2 separate regions of the Homo sapiens genome follow, and region 1 is linked to region 2. Evidence: fine-mapped expression QTL. Tissue or cell type: sun-exposed skin. Region 2 holds a variant in brackets; the other region holds the start of a gene. All regions are shown on one strand. Distances are between the middles of the regions.

What was found. PIP is the estimated chance that this variant, and not a neighbour inherited with it, causes the effect.
Region 1: CYP4F22 starts here. The variant in region 2 is fine-mapped to the expression of CYP4F22 in sun-exposed skin (GTEx, PIP above 0.99).

Annotation. Positions count from the first base shown.
Region 1 is chr19:15,505,489-15,513,578 of GRCh38, reverse strand. It overlaps CYP4F22 (cytochrome P450 family 4 subfamily F member 22), which reads right to left and starts at 5,054. Exons shown (of 14, transcript NM_173483.4): 1 at 4,996-5,054. RefSeq lists an enhancer at 4,910-5,410.
Region 2 is chr19:15,550,577-15,558,677 of GRCh38, reverse strand. CYP4F22 (cytochrome P450 family 4 subfamily F member 22) reads right to left here. Exons shown (of 14, transcript NM_173483.4): 13 at 7,922-8,004; 14 at 6,361-7,384. The coding sequence ends at 7,207. Among named protein-coding and RNA genes, the nearest start is that of CYP4F22, 46 kb to the right of the region's middle. RefSeq lists an enhancer at 2,206-2,345 and silencers at 2,806-2,865, 7,063-7,112. The variant A/G (reference allele first, on the strand shown) is at 3,220.

The DNA.
Region 1 (8,090 bases), 45 kb after region 2:
TCCTAGCTAACACGGTGAAACCCCGTCTCTACTAAAAATAAAAAAAATTAGCCGGGCGAGGTGGCGGGCGCCTGTAGTCCCAGCTACTCGGGAGGCTGAGGCTGAAGAATGGCGTGAACCCGGGAGGCGGAGTTTGCAGTGAGCCGAGATCGCGCCACTGCACTCCAGCCTCGGTGACAGAGTGAGACTCTGTCTCAAAAAAAAAAAAAAAAAAAAATATATATATATACAAAAAATTAGCAGGGCGTGGCAGCATTCGCCTGTAGTCCCAGCTACTCAGGAGGCTGAGGCAGGAGAATCGCTTGAACTCGGGAGGCAGAGGTTGCAGTGAGCCGAGAACATGCCACTGCACTCCAGCCTGGGTCACAAAGCGAGATTCCGTCTCAAAAAAATAAAAATGAAAAAAGAAGTGTGTGCACTGAGGCTCTGTGTGTGGTCCATATGGAAAGCCTGGTACCCCTGCGAGTTAAGTACTGCCTCCATTCATCGTTTACACTGGAGTTTTTCTCCTCATGGAATGCGAGTAAAACTTAGTGTTTGTCACCAATAAATGGTAATACAAAAAAGAGAGAGAGAGAGAGAGAGAAAAGCTTTGAGGACCCAGGAAAAATGGTGGCAGCCTCTGGAAAGGGCCTGAAAGAACTCGGGACAGGGGTGGAAGGGAAACTTAAGTTTACTATCCACTTTTCCAGTCGTTTTGGTTTCCTATACCATGAGCACATGTCACCCATTCAAAAAAAATTGAATCAATTATAAAAATTCATTAGTTTACTGCATGACACAAAGAGTGAATCCTAATGTAAACTATGGAGTTTAGATAATGGAGGAAAGGTATCAGCCAGGTGAAGTGGCTCATGCCCGTAATCCCAGCACTTTGGGAGGCCAAGATGGGAGGATCACTTGAACCAAGGAATTTGAGACCAGCCTGTGCAACATAGTGAGACTCCGTCTCTACTAAAAAACAAAAAAATCAGGCCAGGCATGGTGGCTCATGCCTGTAATCCCAGCACTTTGGGAGGCTGAGGAGGGAGGATCACTTGAGGTCAGGAATTTAAGACCAACCTGGGCAACATGATGAAACCCTGTCTCTACCAAGAAAAAAAGAAATAGCTGGGCATGGTGGTGGATGCCTGTAGCCCCAGCTACTTGGGAGGCTGAGGCAGAGGTTGCAATGAGCCAAAATCTTGCCACTGCACTCCAGCCTGGGGGACAGAGTGAGACTCTATCTCAAAAACTAAAATTAATTTAATTTAATTTAATGTTCACTTTTGACTTCAACAGGCCTGGGTTCAAATCTCAGCTCTCCTATTCCCTAGGTTAGCAGCCTTGGGTGAACCCAGTCCCTGCCATCAGCCTCCCTTTGCCAATCTGTGAAATGGGTTGATAATAACAGGACCTACCCCCTAAGGTTTTTGGGACGGCTCAGTGAAATGAGGCATGGAAAGGCCTTGTCACGTAGCTCACAAAATGTTAGCCATGATGACTACTCCTATTATTGCTATTTGATAGAAGTGAGAGCAATTCAAAGGTGACACCCTCAGAATGTTGTGGGCGGCTGGCATGTCCACTCCCTATCTACACCGGCCCCCGATCTCATCCAGCAGGCCCGCCTTGGTAGAGGTGGCCCTGCCCTGCCAGGGCCCGCATTATCTGGTGGTGGTGAAAGCCAGCGACTGGCTCCGTGTCCCGGCCCACGCCCAGGTCGCGCTGGTTTGTCAGGTTGGCCCAGCCGTTCACCCACTGAGGACTTGTTATACAAGGTGTGTGGGCTCCCAAGAAGGAGTGGAGGGCACGGACCCAGGCCGACGCCAGGTACGAGATACATGCCTCTTCTTGAACTGCAGGGGCTGGGACCAGCCAGGAGCCTGATGGAAGAGCACCCCAACGCTGGCCCCATCACCCCAAATCCCAGCCCTCCTTTTCACTCCAAGCCTGTAGTCAAGGCAGCCTGCCCCCGTCCCCACTGATTCATGGTGCCACCTTGGCTTCCTCAACATCAGAGGGCTGGCTTACCCCAGAGACTCACATATTCCCCCAAAGTGCCAGACCCCAGAAGGCTGGAGCTGAGAGGGGACTTCTAAGTTGTTTTGTTGTTGTTGTTGTTTGTTTGTTTTGTTTTTTAGACATGGTCTTGCTGTGTCCTTCAGGCTGGAGTGCAGTGGTGTGATCTTGGCTCACTGCAACCTCCCCGTCCTGGGCTTGAGTGATCCTCCCACCTCAGCATCCTGAGTAGCTGGGACTACAGGCGCCTGCCACCATGCTCAGCTAATTTTTTTTTAATTTTTTTGTTAAAAAAAATTAATATAGTGCTGGGCGCGGTGGCTCATGCCTGTAATCATGCCTGTAATCTCAGCACTTTGGGAGGAGGGAGGATCACCTGAGGTCGGGAGTTCGAGACCAGCCTGACCAACATGGAGAAACCCCATCTCTACTAAAAATACAAAATTAGCCAGGCATGGTGGCACATGCCTGTAGTCTCAGCTACTCAGGAGGCTGAGGCAAGAGAACAGCTTGAACCCGGGAGGCAGGGGTTGCAGTGAGCCAAGATCACGCCATTACACTCCAGCCTGGGCAACAAGAGCAAAACTCCATCTCAAAAAAAAAAAAAAAAATATATATATATATATATATATGGTATCCCTATATTCCCCAGGCTGGTCTCAAAGTCCTGGGCTCAAACCATCCTCCAGCCTTAGCCTCCCAAAGTGCTGGGATTACAGGCATGAGCCACCACACTCAGCCTGGCTTCTAGGTCTTCAGTCTCCACTCAGCACTCTAAATTTCTAAGGTTCTGAGAAAGAGCTTCAGAGTCATTTATGACTAATGAGGGCAGGGCCAAGTTGGCAAATGTGGTAAAGGAGACAGTCCTATCGCAGCTTTGATCATATTCAAACCTTTTGCTAATAATTTCCTTGGCCCAAAGGGGATCCTGGCAGAAAAAGAAGTTTTAAAACCACTAATAATCTAGACCATTGCAGGGTTGTAATTGTTTCTGCCCACCATCCCAAGTGTGGCCACACCTGGACATGAGCCTCAGAAAAGATTCTATAAAGGTCTGCCTCTTTGCTGTGCGACCTCGGGTGAGTGTCTGCACCTCTCTGAGCCTCAATTTCTTCATCCATTAAGACAGAAGCCCTATTTACCCACCTCATGGGGCTGCAATCTTCCAGGCACATAGTAAGCCTTTGATCAATGATATCTCTCATTACCGTTGGTGCTGCCATCACGTTCATTATTGTGACCTGGCCATCTGGGGTTTGGAGAATCAGGTCCAAGTTTTATCAACAAGGAGAGATGAGTCAGGCGCAGTGGCTCATGCCTGTAATCCCAGCACTTTGGGAGGCTGAGGCGGGTGGATCACTTGAGCCCAAGAGTTCAAGACCAGCCTGGGCAACATGGTGAAACCCCATCCCTACCAAAAATACAAAAAGTAGACAGGAGTGGTGGTGCATGCCTGTAGTCCTCCATACTCAGGAGGCTGAGGTAGGAGGATTGCTTGAACCCAGGAGATCGAGGCTGCAGTGAGCTATGATTATGCCACTGCACTCCTGCCTGGGTGACAAAGTGAGACCCTGTCTCAACAACAACAACAAAAAAAGAAAGAAAGAAAGAAAGAGAGAGAGACAGAGAAAAGAAAGAAAGAAAGAAAGAAAGAAGGAAGGAAAGAAAGAAAGGAAGGAAGGAAGGAAGGAAGGAAGGAAGGAAGGAAGGAAGGAAGGAAGGAGAGATGGGTCCCATTCCCTGAATGCCTCTCAAGTCATCCAAGCCCCTCTGCAGATACCAACCTGGGTCACCGCCAGACACCAGGCCAGAGTTAATGTTACTGTTCAGAAACCCAAGCTGGGCCATTTGGTGATGCCGGGGACATCGGAAAGTGGACTGAGGCTTTGGGGTCAAACAGGGCTTGTTTTTTCAAATCCCAGCTCTCCCACTGGGCACTGGGTATCCACAGGCACAGGCTTCTTCTCTCTGGCCCTCAGTTTCCGTGCCTGTAAAATGAGGGTGGTAGGGAAGATTTGGGGAGGTTCCTTCTCTTTGGGGTTTGGAGTTACACAAGAAGGAGTTTGATGCTGCCAGCCCTGGCTGGGCACAGCTCCAGGACCTAGAAATAAGGGGTGGAGCAAGGGGCACAGGGTAGGAGGAATTTCGGGTACGCAGCCAGCCCTGGCCATCTCCTTTGCCTACAGGGCGGTGAGACTCACAATGAGTGCATGAATGAGCTGTGAGCGGGCAGATGAACCAGGAGAGATGCCCTGAGCCTAGGCCTCTCCAGCCTGCGACTCCCCAGGTGGCCAGCCTCGGCCAACTTGCATACCCAGGCTGGGCCAGGCCCCTGGGAGGCCAGAAAACATCTTCCTTCCAGCATCTATCAGACGAAGATCACCTGGGACCAACCCCAGGACCTCACACAACCCTCAGAGCCAACTCTCGGGGCCAGAAGAACACCGTCTTTTCATAGAGGGGCTCTGCGTCTGGCATGGATGGGCAGAGGGTTCCTGATAGCAGTTGAACCACAAGCCTAACCCCATCGGTTGAATGTACTACAACCTCCCCGTCAAGACAACGTGCAGTGGTGAAATCTCAGGGCGAATCCCCATTCAGCCCCAAAGAGGCGTCCCAGGGCGGGGCTTGAACCCATCTGGGATGTCCTGACTACCAGAGGGGTCTTTTGGAGGCCCCCTGCCCATCACAGATACCCAGAGAAAAGGATGCGCCTAGGACTCCGAGGCGCACACAGAAAAAAAAAAAAAGAAAACAACTCACAAATGCAGCAAACGTCGGGGACACACCCACGTGCCCCTCTCCCCACGAGTGCCCCGGGCATGCAGCCCCGTCCTGGGTCCTGGGGGGGTCCCCGTGGCCGGCTGCGCCCCGCCCGCCGCCGCGCGCAGACCTTCGCCCTTGCCCCGCCAGCACCGAACCGCGCGAGCCTCGGGTTCCAGCGCAGCGCCGCGGCCGCGCTCAGGTTACAGCCCTCACCACGCGCGCACTCACCCGCGGGTCTCAGCCTCCTGCCCTCGATCCGGATCCACCGGCGCCACTACCTGGGATCTGACCGCGCCGTCCCACGGCCCAACCCTTTAACCCCGCCCGGCCGTGCCGAGGGGTCCGCCCCCGGACATCCCGCCCCGGGCTCCCGCAGGGTTCTGGGCGGGGACTCCAGCGCTGCCCCCTAGAAAAGGAGAGAACAAGAAATAGGCGTGTGGAGGGGTGGAGAGCGATGGAAAGAGAGAGAGACTGAGACTGAGATGGAGAGATGAAGAGAGACAGAGACTTGGACACCTAGAAGTCCCAAACCATCAGGCTCCCCGCCCTCCTGCCACTGCTGGGCCGCATTAGCGCCCAAGTCCCGCTCTGGACCACACTCCTCCCACACCAACACCCCCCATGGCCCTTACTTCCAGGTTTGCTCCCAAGCTTGGACAGCGATCTCTAAACCATCACCCCCTGGGGCCCCACTGACCCCCCCGAGAAGCCTCCTCTGGGGCCCTCAGGAATTCTCTGGCTCCACCAGCCCTTGGGAACCAGCCCTTCCCCTCTCTCTGGATCCTGGGCCTAAGCTTCCCCGGCACCCACCCCTGGAGGCTCTGCAGCCTCTTCCTCCAGGAAGACCTCCAACCTCAACAAGCAGCACCAGACTGGTTCTGCTCCCCGCCAACCCGCCCTCCGCCACTCCTCCCCACCCACTGCCAGACACCTTGACCCTCTGACCAGGATGTTGTCCTTGGCCAACCCGTCTACTCCAGATGTGTGGAGACAGAGTCAGCTCCGCCTCTGGATGTGTCTGTCCTCCGGAGTCGGTGGGTGGATGTGTGGCTGACCTTAGCACGTGGGCAGACAGATGAGAAGACAAGAATCTCCACTTGCCCCAGCAGGTGGTAAACTTAGAAGACTTCCTTATCCCTCTTTTTTCTAAGAATACGCTCTCATTTGGTGCTGGGCCCTTGGAAAGAGGGCGTGGGAGGTGTGGGGCATGTCTCCTGGTGAAGAAGAGGAGACACAAGTAATTGAAGTTTTGCTGCTTGGAGGAGGCAGACATGAGGTCAGGGAAGGCGACGTGGAGGATGTGACACTTGAGCTGGGACTGCATGGAGAGGTTGGATTTCAACAAGTGCAGGAGAGGGGGTAGAGCTCAAGCACAGAGAAACTGGAGGGTGTGACTTAGCAGATGGCTTTCCCTGGCCTTGGAGTGTGAGAGGTGTGGAGGCTGGAGGGATGCAGGAGTTGACTGTGAAGGCCAGTTTGAATGGCTGGATCTTGATCTGGTGGGCAGTGGGGAGCCATGGATGGTGCTTGAGTAGGGGAGGTGCCCCCTGTTAGTTGATTGGTCTCACTCTGTCATCCAGGCTGGGGTGACTCCTGGGCTCAAGCCATCCTCCTGCCTCAGCCTCCTGGGTAGTTGGGACTACAGACACGTGCCACCACACCCAGCTAATTTTTTTTTTTCATTTTTTTAGAGACAGGGTCTCACTATGTTGCCCAGGCTGGTCTCAAACTCCTGGGCTCAAGCCATTCTCCCAGCTCCTAGAACTTTTAAAAAAAAATATTTATATTTATTTGTGTCTTTAATCTTTTTTACTTCTGAGGAAGAGCTTATTTTATTAATTTTTTATTCATAATTAACGCAGCATGAAAGCCTATTTTTTAGGGATATGAATTTTGTTTTGCCAGTAATTCTGGCCAAGGGGGAGCTTACTAGAAGCACTTTGGAAAATGCAGAGATCCACATAGAGTGAAGTTTGAGAGGGACCCCTCCAGTGGCTGCAGGGGACAGAGACAAAGGGTGGGGGTAGCTGAGACCCAGGAAGGGGTTAAGGATGAGGTCCCGGAGGTCATCTCCACTGACCACTGGCTAAATACGGGGTTCTAGGGAAGAGAGAAGGAAAAGAAGCCATCTGCCTGGCTTCTCTGCTCTCAAAGAGCTGGAGACCAGGAAGGAGGAGTAAGTGAAAGGGCCTGGAGCACTAAGAGTGGGCTTCGTGGATGTGTGGCCTTGAGCTAGTCACATGGCTGCTCTGAGCCTCCATCTCCCTATGCATAAAATGCAGAAGAAGCCCATGTGATGAGGTGGTGTTCAGCCCCACTCCTGGCACAGGGCACAGGCTGGACAAACATCAGCTGTTTGAGTTTGCAGTTGATTGGGGCCATCCCAGCAGAGTAGAGTTTTCCGCCAGGGAATGTTTAGCAACATCAGGAGATCATACTGCTGGGTGGGGGGTAGAGGTGGGGGTGGGGGAATTCAGGGTGGTGCAACTGACATCTAGTGGGTGAAGGCCAGAGATATTATTCAACATCCAGAACACCCCCACCCCCAAAGAATAATCCAGGCTCAAATGTTGACAGTGCTAAGATTGGGAAACCGTGGGTCACCTTCAGTCTAAAAGTCTCGTGGGTCTCATGGGATGACATTCAGGGAGACATCCAGGAGGCAGTTGGGCTCAGCGTGAGGGCACCTCCTGAGAATTGCATCTGTGAGTCACCTGCCTTGGGAAGACGGTGGATGGCATGGCAGTAGGTCAGCGAGATCACTCAGGAGGGAGGTGGGCAGAGAAGAGGAGGGGAGGGCAGAAGTGGGGATCACAGCCACTTTTTTTTTTTTTTTAAGATGGAGTCTCACTCTGTTGCTCTGTTGTCCAGGCTGGATACAGTGGCACAATCTTGGCTCACTGTAACCTCCGCCTCCCGGGGTCAAGCGATTCTCCTGCCTCAGCCTCCCGAGTAGCTGAGACTACAGGTGCCCACCACCAAGCCCGGCTAATTTTTGTATTTTTAGTAGAGACGGGGTTTCGCCGTATTGGCCAGGCTGGTCTCAAACTCCTGACCTCAAGTGATCCACCTGCCTTGGCCTCCCAAAGTGCTGGGATTACAGGCATGAGCTGCCGTGCCTGGCCTTTTATTTTATTTTTTAATCAAACAGAGTCTTGCTCTGTCACCCAGGCTAGAGTGCAGTGGTGCTATCTTGGCTGACTGCAACCTCCACCTCCCGGGTTCAAGCAATTCTCCTGCCTCAGCCTCCTGAGTAGCTGGGATTACAGGCTTGCACCACCACGCCCGGCTAATTTTTGTATTTTTAGTAGAGACAGGGTTTT
Region 2 (8,101 bases):
ATGGAGTTTCGCTCTTGTTTCCCAGACTGGAGTGCAATGGCATGATCTTGGCTCACAGCAACCTCTGCCTCCCTAGTTCAAGCGATTCTCCTGCCTCAGCCTCCCAAGTAGCTGGGATTACAGGCTCACACCACCGCGCCCGGCTAACTTTGTATTTTTAGTAGAGACAGGGTTTCTCCGTGTTGGTCAGGCTGGTCTCGAACTCCCGACCTCAGGTGATCCGCCAGCCTCGGCCTCCCAAAGTGCTGGGATTACAGGCATGAGCCACCGAGCTTGGCCTGTATATTGTTTTAACCTACTAAGTTTCCTGGTAGTTCAATATACAATAATAGATAATTGAAACAGATATATTTCCCAACAAGTTTGGAGTCATCAAAAAACTGATAATGGACTGGGTGCAGTGACTCAGGCCTGTAATCACAACAGTTCGGGGGGCCAACATAGGCGGATCACTTGAATCCAGGAGTTCCAGTTCAGCCTGGGCAACATGGTAAAACCCCATCTCTACAGAAAATACAAAAAAAAGCATCTGGATGTGGTGGTGGGAGGATTGCTTGACCCCAGGAGACAGAGGTTGCAATGAGTTGAGATTGAGCCACTGCACTCCAGCCTAGGCAACAGAGCAATACCCTGTATCAAAAAAAGAAAAAAAAAAAAAGGCCGGGTGCAGTGGCTCACCCCTGTAATCCCAGCACTGGGAGGCCAAGGTGGGTGGATCATTTGAGGTCAGGAGTTCAAGACCAGCCTGGCCAGCATGGTGAAACCTCATATCTACTAAAAATAACAAAAAAAAAATTAGCCAGGCATGGTGGTGTGCCTGTAATCCCAGCTACTCAGGAAGCTGAGGCAGTAGAATCACTTGAACCCAGGAGGCAGAGGTTGCAGTGAGCCGAGATCATGCCACTGCACTCCAGCCTGGGTGACAGAGTGAGACCCTGTCTCCAAAAAAAAAATTTTTTTAATAAACAAAAAAAACCCGGTAACGTGTGCATAAATGCTTTTATATACATTGGAAAACGTTCATATATATATGAACGTTTTTTAATTTTTAAAAACTGAAAAAAGAGCACACCAAACTGCTGGGCCAGAGGTAGAAGCAGAAGCAGAAAGCGGAAGAATTTCCCTTTCAAATTTTACACTTATAACTTATTCCCTGCTCCTTCCATGTCCTTGAGGAGGGAGGAGGCTGTCAGGAGAGGAGTGAGCACCCAGCTTGTGGTCAGACAGCCCATAGTCAAAGCCAGGCTCTGCCACTCCCTCACTGCCGTGTGACCTTGGGCAAGTGATTTGCCCTCTCTGAGCCTCACATTCATCGTTGGTAAAAAAAATAAATAAAAGCGCACACTGACAGGCTTCTGGGGATTGGAGGAACCAGCACACATGTGTGTCTTAATTTGGGTTCCCTGGAACTAGACCTTAATACAAGGAGTTGAGTGCAAATCCTCTATCAGGAGGGTGACCATAAGACAAGAGTTCAACTGCCTGTTGTTTCTTTGGGAGGTGATCCCTGGAAACACAATTAGGGCAATGGAGAAGAGGGATGGGGAAGGGAAGGCAGCAGCAGTTAAAGGGACCTTTATTGAGGAAGTTTCCACTGTGGGTAGCTAGGGCTCAGCCCTGCCTAGTACCTCAGGGAGACAGAATAGAACATGCACCTCCCAGAACAAGGGAGTCTTCACCCCCAGAGAGAGGGAGCTGGGGTATTTATCCACCAATACCCACCAGTCATTACTGACAGCTTCCTCCAAGGGCATGATTTCTCCAGAATGTCCTGCCTGCACCGCACAGGTCAGACCTGGGGACAGAGGCAAGGGCTCTGACAGTGGCTCCAGCCATGAGCAGGAACACAGCCTGGTGTGTGTGGATAGTTACAGTGACTCAGTGAGTGGAGTTCTCCTCTCCTCTCCTTCCAACACACCCATCCATATGCGCACACACAGTCACACCGACACATACACGTTTACACACACTCGTGTGCACACTACAACACATGCACACACTGTTACCCAAATGCACCCAAACACATACGCGGTCACACATGCACGCTCAAACGTGCACGGACACAAAATTGAACGAATAGAGAATGGATCTCCAAATTGTCCAGCAGAGGGAGCGTTCTTCACACTCAGGAGGAAGGAGGTCCCACAGCCGCCAGCGACAGGACCAGACTTCGGTGTTTTGAGAATTACACTTGCAGTACGTGTAACAGGGCTCCGGGGACCCAGGGACCTTACTCCTCCCCTTCTCATTCTCATTTATTCACCCTCGTGGCCCTTGGCGGAAACTCAGTGTGCATTACAAGCATGATGATACCGGACTATTCGCATGACAAGAAAAAGCCGAGGTGCAGAGAGGGACAGTCACGTGCCCAAGGCCGCCCCTAGGAAGGAAGAGCCTAGATTGAGCCCACATATGTCGGATCTCAAGGCTAACTTCGTTTGCTAGTGGATGGCGAGGTTGCGCCGAAAAGGGCCCAGGAGATGTTTGGCAAAGGATGCGCTCTTGGAGACCCTCGGTTGGGAGGGGGGTGTAGGAGAGGCAGCACCTGCAAGATCCGGGTGGCTCACGTAGGGTCTGGGACTGTCTGTTTCCCATTCAGCCCCGGAGTACGTCGAACAGGGGATCCCGGCCGACGACCCCAGCACAGGCCACCGGGGGGCGCCCCAGGACACACGCCGCTGCTACTGCCTCTCGCACAGCCAGCCCCGCTTTAGCTCATCTCCTCCCCGCTCCAACTCTAGCCCAACCCCCGTCGACGCCCCCTTCTACGCTACGTGGCTAGGGATCTAGACCAGGACTGGGAGCCTGAGGGGTGGGGCAGAAGAGGACTCAGCGCCAGCGCTGAGGCCGCACCGAATGATCTTGGGTAAGTCACTTCATTCGGGGGCTCAGTTTCTACCTCTGTTAAACGGAATAATAAAAAGTGATCTTACAAGTCAGTATGAGGATTAAATGGGAATATATGGAAAGAGCACACAGGAAGCACTCAATCAAAAAAAAAAGTTTTGTTTTTGTTTTTCAGACCGAGTCTCGCTCTGTCACCCAGGCTGGAGTGCAGCGGCACTATCTTGGCTCACTGCAACCTCCGTCTCCCGGGTTCAAGCGATTCTCCTGTCTCGCCCTACCGAGTAGCTGGGACTACAGGCGCGTGCCACCACTCCCGTCTGATTTTTTTTTTATTTTTAGTAGAGACAGTGTTTCACCGTGTTAGCCAGGATG[A/G]TCTCAATCTCCTGACCTCGTGATCCGCCCGCCTCGGCCTCCCAAAGTGCTGGGATTACAGGAGTCAGCCACCGCGCCCTGCCCTAATTTTTTGTATTTTAAGTAGAGATGGAGTTTCACCATGTTGGCCAGGCTGGTCTGGAACTCCTCGCCTCAACTGATCCGCCCACCCCGGCGTCCCAAAGTGCTGGGATTACAGGTGTGAGCTACCACGCCTGGCCTCATAATTGTTAGGTTAACTTTGGAGACCACCCCCAGGGCTCCCTTAAGCCCTTACTCCATACACACACACACACACACACACACACACACACGCGCGCGCGCGCGTGCGCGCACACACACACGCACACATGAGATCTCACCCAGTCTTAAAGTTTTGCTTTCTTTTCTGTTTTTTTTTTTTTGTTTTTTTTTTTTTGTTTGTTTTGGTTCTCCAGTTCATGGTTTTTAATTAGCAGAACTGTTGCCTTTGGGACTGGATAATTACTTGTTTTATTGAGCTAGGTATCCTTTGTCTTGTAGAATGTTTAGCAGAGTGCTGGGTCCCTACCCTCTAGACGCAAATAGTAACCACCGGTTGTGACAACCAAAAATGTTTCCAAATAACAACGAATGTCATCTGGTAGGAAAAATCACCCCCATTTGAAATCGCTTCACTAGCTTTTGGAAAAATATATAAAATATTTATACTAAGGCTTCCCAAATATACATGCCCAACCCAAAACTCTTGAATTGGAGAACCGTTTATTCGACTGACATGTCCAATTCCTCTGAACCAAAACTGACATCCTGACATCTCCCACAAAACAACTTACTCCACTCAGCATTCCCCACGTCAGCTGATGGCAGTTCCATTTTTCCAGATGTTCAAGCCCAAACCTAGTGTCCCCCACTTCTTTCAAACTTCACGTTTTATCCACCACCAAGCCTGACAGCACTGCCTTTGTGAACAGTCACTCCTCCTTGGAATCCAATTGCTCTTGATCACATCTAAAGACCCCGGCTTGGTTGAAGCCACCATCATGTCTCACCTGGACGAATGCAGTCACCCCTAACTGATCTGCCTAGTCCCATCTTTGCTCACACTGTCTCTGTTTAACAGAGCACACAAAGTCCTGTGGAAGTCCTGGCATGGTGGCTCACACCTGTAATTCCAGCACTTTGGGAGGCTGAGGTGGGAGGATCGCTTGAGACCAGGAGTTCAAGACCAGCCTGGGCAACATGGTAAGACCCCCGTCTCGATAACAAATACAAAGCTTAGCTGGGCATGGTGGTGTGTGCCTGTGGTCCCAGCTACTCAGGAGGCTGAGGCAGGAGGATCGTTTGAGCCCAAGGAGGCCAAGGCTGCAGTGAGCTATGGTTGCACCCCTGCACACCAGCCTGAGCAACAAAGCATGACCCTGTCTCAAAAAAAAAAAAAAAAAAGTTCGTATGACAAAGCTTGTCCCTCCTCTGCTCAGAACTCCCCATTTCTGTCACAAAAAAAGTCACAGAAAAGGCCCTGTGTGAATTTACTTCTTTCTTTACTTATTTATCATTTATCATATCTCCTCCCTAGAGGTAAACTCTGGGAACCTAGGGCTCAAACAGTGCCTGTCTCACGGCAGATTGCCCAAGAAATATTTGGTAAATTAATTTTTTTTTTAGACAGAATCTCACTCTGTCGCCCAGGCTGGAGTGCAGTGGCACAATCTCGGCTCACTGCAACCTCCACCTCCCAGGTTCAAGCGATTCTCCTGCCTCAGCCTACTGAGTAGCTGGGATTACAGGCACCCGCCATCAAACGTGGCTAATTTTTGTATTTTTTAGTAGAGACAGGGTTTCACCATGTTGGCCAGGCTGGTCTCAAACTCCTAACCTCAGGTGATCCACCTGTCTCAGCCTCCCAAAGTGCTGGGATTACAGGCATGAGCCACCGCACCCGGCCTGTTGAATTAATATTATTGTCTCTAGTGACCTAGATGGAAATAGTCTACAGGCAAATGCTACCTAAAAGGAAGATGATACCACTATTATACCACCACTATATATATAATGATGGCATATATAGTGCATATATATATATTATATATGTGGTATAATAGCAGTATCATTTTCCTTTAGTGTAGCATTTTATATGTATAAAATTGCTGACATTGTCATTGCCCACCTTTTTTTGTTTGTTTGTTTTTGGAACAGGGTCTTGCTCTGTTGCCCCAGCTGGAGTGCAGTGGTGTGATCATAGCTCACTGCAGCCTCAAACTCCTCAGCTCAAGTGATCCTCCTGCCTCAGCCTCCCAAGTAGCTGGGACTACAGATGTGCACCATCACACCTGGCTAATTTTTTATTTTTTGTAGAAATGGAGTCTCACTGTGTTGCCCTGGCTGGTCTCTAACTCCTGGTCTCAAGCAATCCTCCAGCCTCAGCCTCCCAAAGTGCTGGGATTACAGGTGTAAGCCATCACGCCTGGCCCCCATCTTTTATATTCCCATATCAGGGACTACTCTACCATCAAGTTCCCTCAGCCAAATACCTGAGCATCACCCTTACCACCTCCCTCCCCTCAGCCCCCACTGCTAGATAGTCACCCCAATCCTGGCCCTTCCTGTTGTCTGGACCTCAGCTTCCCTCTTTCCCAGGGTCCCAACCCCGCAAGTCACCTCCCTGCCAGCCCTAGATCTGGCCATGTCCTGTCCTGATCCCGCTCACACACTCTCCATGGCTCCCTATTGCCCTCAGCATAAAGCCTGTGCATTTGGCCCCTTCCTTCATTCTGCCCCCACTTCCCAGATCCAACCACCTGGCCCCTGGTGAGTTCCTCAAACACACTCTGTTCTCCCTCAGCTCAGGGTATTCTCAGATGTTGTTCCTTCTGCCTGGAATACTCTTCCCTCCCCTTGTCACCCACTCAACTTCCATTCCAGCATCGGAGAAGCTCTCCCTGACCCATCCCCATCCCTCTGCTATATTCATCCAGCACCCGGGGCCTCTCCTTTGGAGCACCTGTCCTGGGTTGTAAATAAACCTTTACACGTGGAATTATTTGTTCAACATCTGTCCCCCACCCCCTAAGAAGGCAGAAAACAGGGCCTGCCTGTGGTTCTGAAGCAGTGCCAGCAAACAATATGTGATCTGTTGATGAAATAAATGAACACACAAACTGACCCCCAAAATCTGAGTTTATGTCCTAGGATAAATGGCTTTCCAGCCTCCTAGCCCGCAGCTTCGCTCAGTTGCAGAGCCCCTCATTCCCATGCTGGGGGCTCCACGTGTAAGGATCTGGCTGAGCTAGGGGTGGAGGGTGGGGTAAGTCTGCATCCTTTGCTTTTATTCTGCAAAAACAGAACACTCAGCAAAGGATCTTTGGGCAAGGGAGGAAGGAAGGGGCTTACAAGGGTCTGAGTTTACAAAACAACAACAAAAGCAAGCAGCCTCGAACCCTACGATCCAGCCTCACGCCTGAGCAGTCTGCCCGTATGAGCTGAGGGCCTCAGGAGGGTGATGTCCGAGTTAAAAGCTCTGACGTCAGGCTCCAGCTTTCCTCAGTTTGGAAGCCTGCCAGGGGTTCAGCCAGTTGGGGGGGGGTGGGGTGTGGTGGGCCCTGAGTCATAGGTGGGTCTTAGGTCCTCTGAAGGCTCAGTGGGCAAGGCCTGGAGACCTGGATCTGCAGGGGCGTGGCCTGAGGACCTCAATCCGTAGGATCCTGGGGGCGGGGCCTGAGCCCAAGGGGGCAGGGTCGACCCTGGTCCCTCAAACAGGACAGGTGCGAGAAGTCAGGGGGCGGGACCTAAGCCTCAAGGGGCGGGATCAGGCCCCCTAAGGGGAGGAGCCTTGCCTTGAGGGGCGTGGCCAGTACCACCAGGCTGCTCAACAGCGGTGCCTGGTCATCCAGGAGCTGAACCTGAACTTCGAGGGGGGTGGCCTATGCCCTCGGGATCTTTGGGGCGAGTCCTGGTCCTTTGGGGGCGGGGCCTGGACCCTCGGGAGCCGCAGGGGCGCGCCCACGCTCAGGCCCGCGGAGGCAGCGGCTCCACCTTGAGCCAGAGCCCGTTCTCCGTGCGCAGTATGAGCTCCGGCTTCCGCCGCACCTTGCGCGTTCGGTCCACGCTCAGGCGGAAACGTAGCAGTGTTAGTGCCACAACCACGCGCAACTCGGCCATGGCGAAGCTCTGTCCGATGCAATTCCTGGAGGAAGAGGGGACAGGGCTCAGGCCCAGCTTCTGTGTGAGCACTGGTCCCCGGGGGTCACATGCCTCCTTTGAAAATGAAGCAAGCATCCTGGGCTGGCTGAGGGTTAAAGTGAAACCCCACGCTGGGTGAGGGTTAAAGTGAGACCCCACGGATCGCTCAATTAATGTGACCTTGGGGTTGAGTGTCTGAATCCCAGTACAGCCTCTTACTAGCTGTGTGTCCTGGATACACAGCGCCCCCTCTGAGTCTCAGTTCCTTCATCTGTAAAAACGGGGACAAAGGCATCATAGAGCCAATGGGAGCGTGGGAGCCCAGAACTCAGGGCCTGACACACCGTTGGTGCTCAATACCCAGGATGCTATTGCAGAGTCTGATTTGGGGGCCTCCTGGCGCATTGGGGAGAGGGTGCTGGGTCTTCAGAAAGGACGCCTGGGTGCCATCTGATCTCTGCTCCTGAGAGGCACATTCCTGATCTTTCCCTGCCTCTGTTCCTACACAGCTGGCTTGGACTAGGGGAAATAGAGGGGTTACCTGGGTCCTGCAGAGAAGGGCACATAGGCCAGTGGAGAGCGCTGCTGTGGGTTGTCCGGGTCAAAGCGGTAGGGGTTGTACACCTAGGGAGGAACAGCCTGGAGATGAGTCTGGGGGCTGCCCCAGACATCCCAGCCTGGCCCCCTTCCCTGAGCCTCTGGGGGTCAGTAAAGATGGATG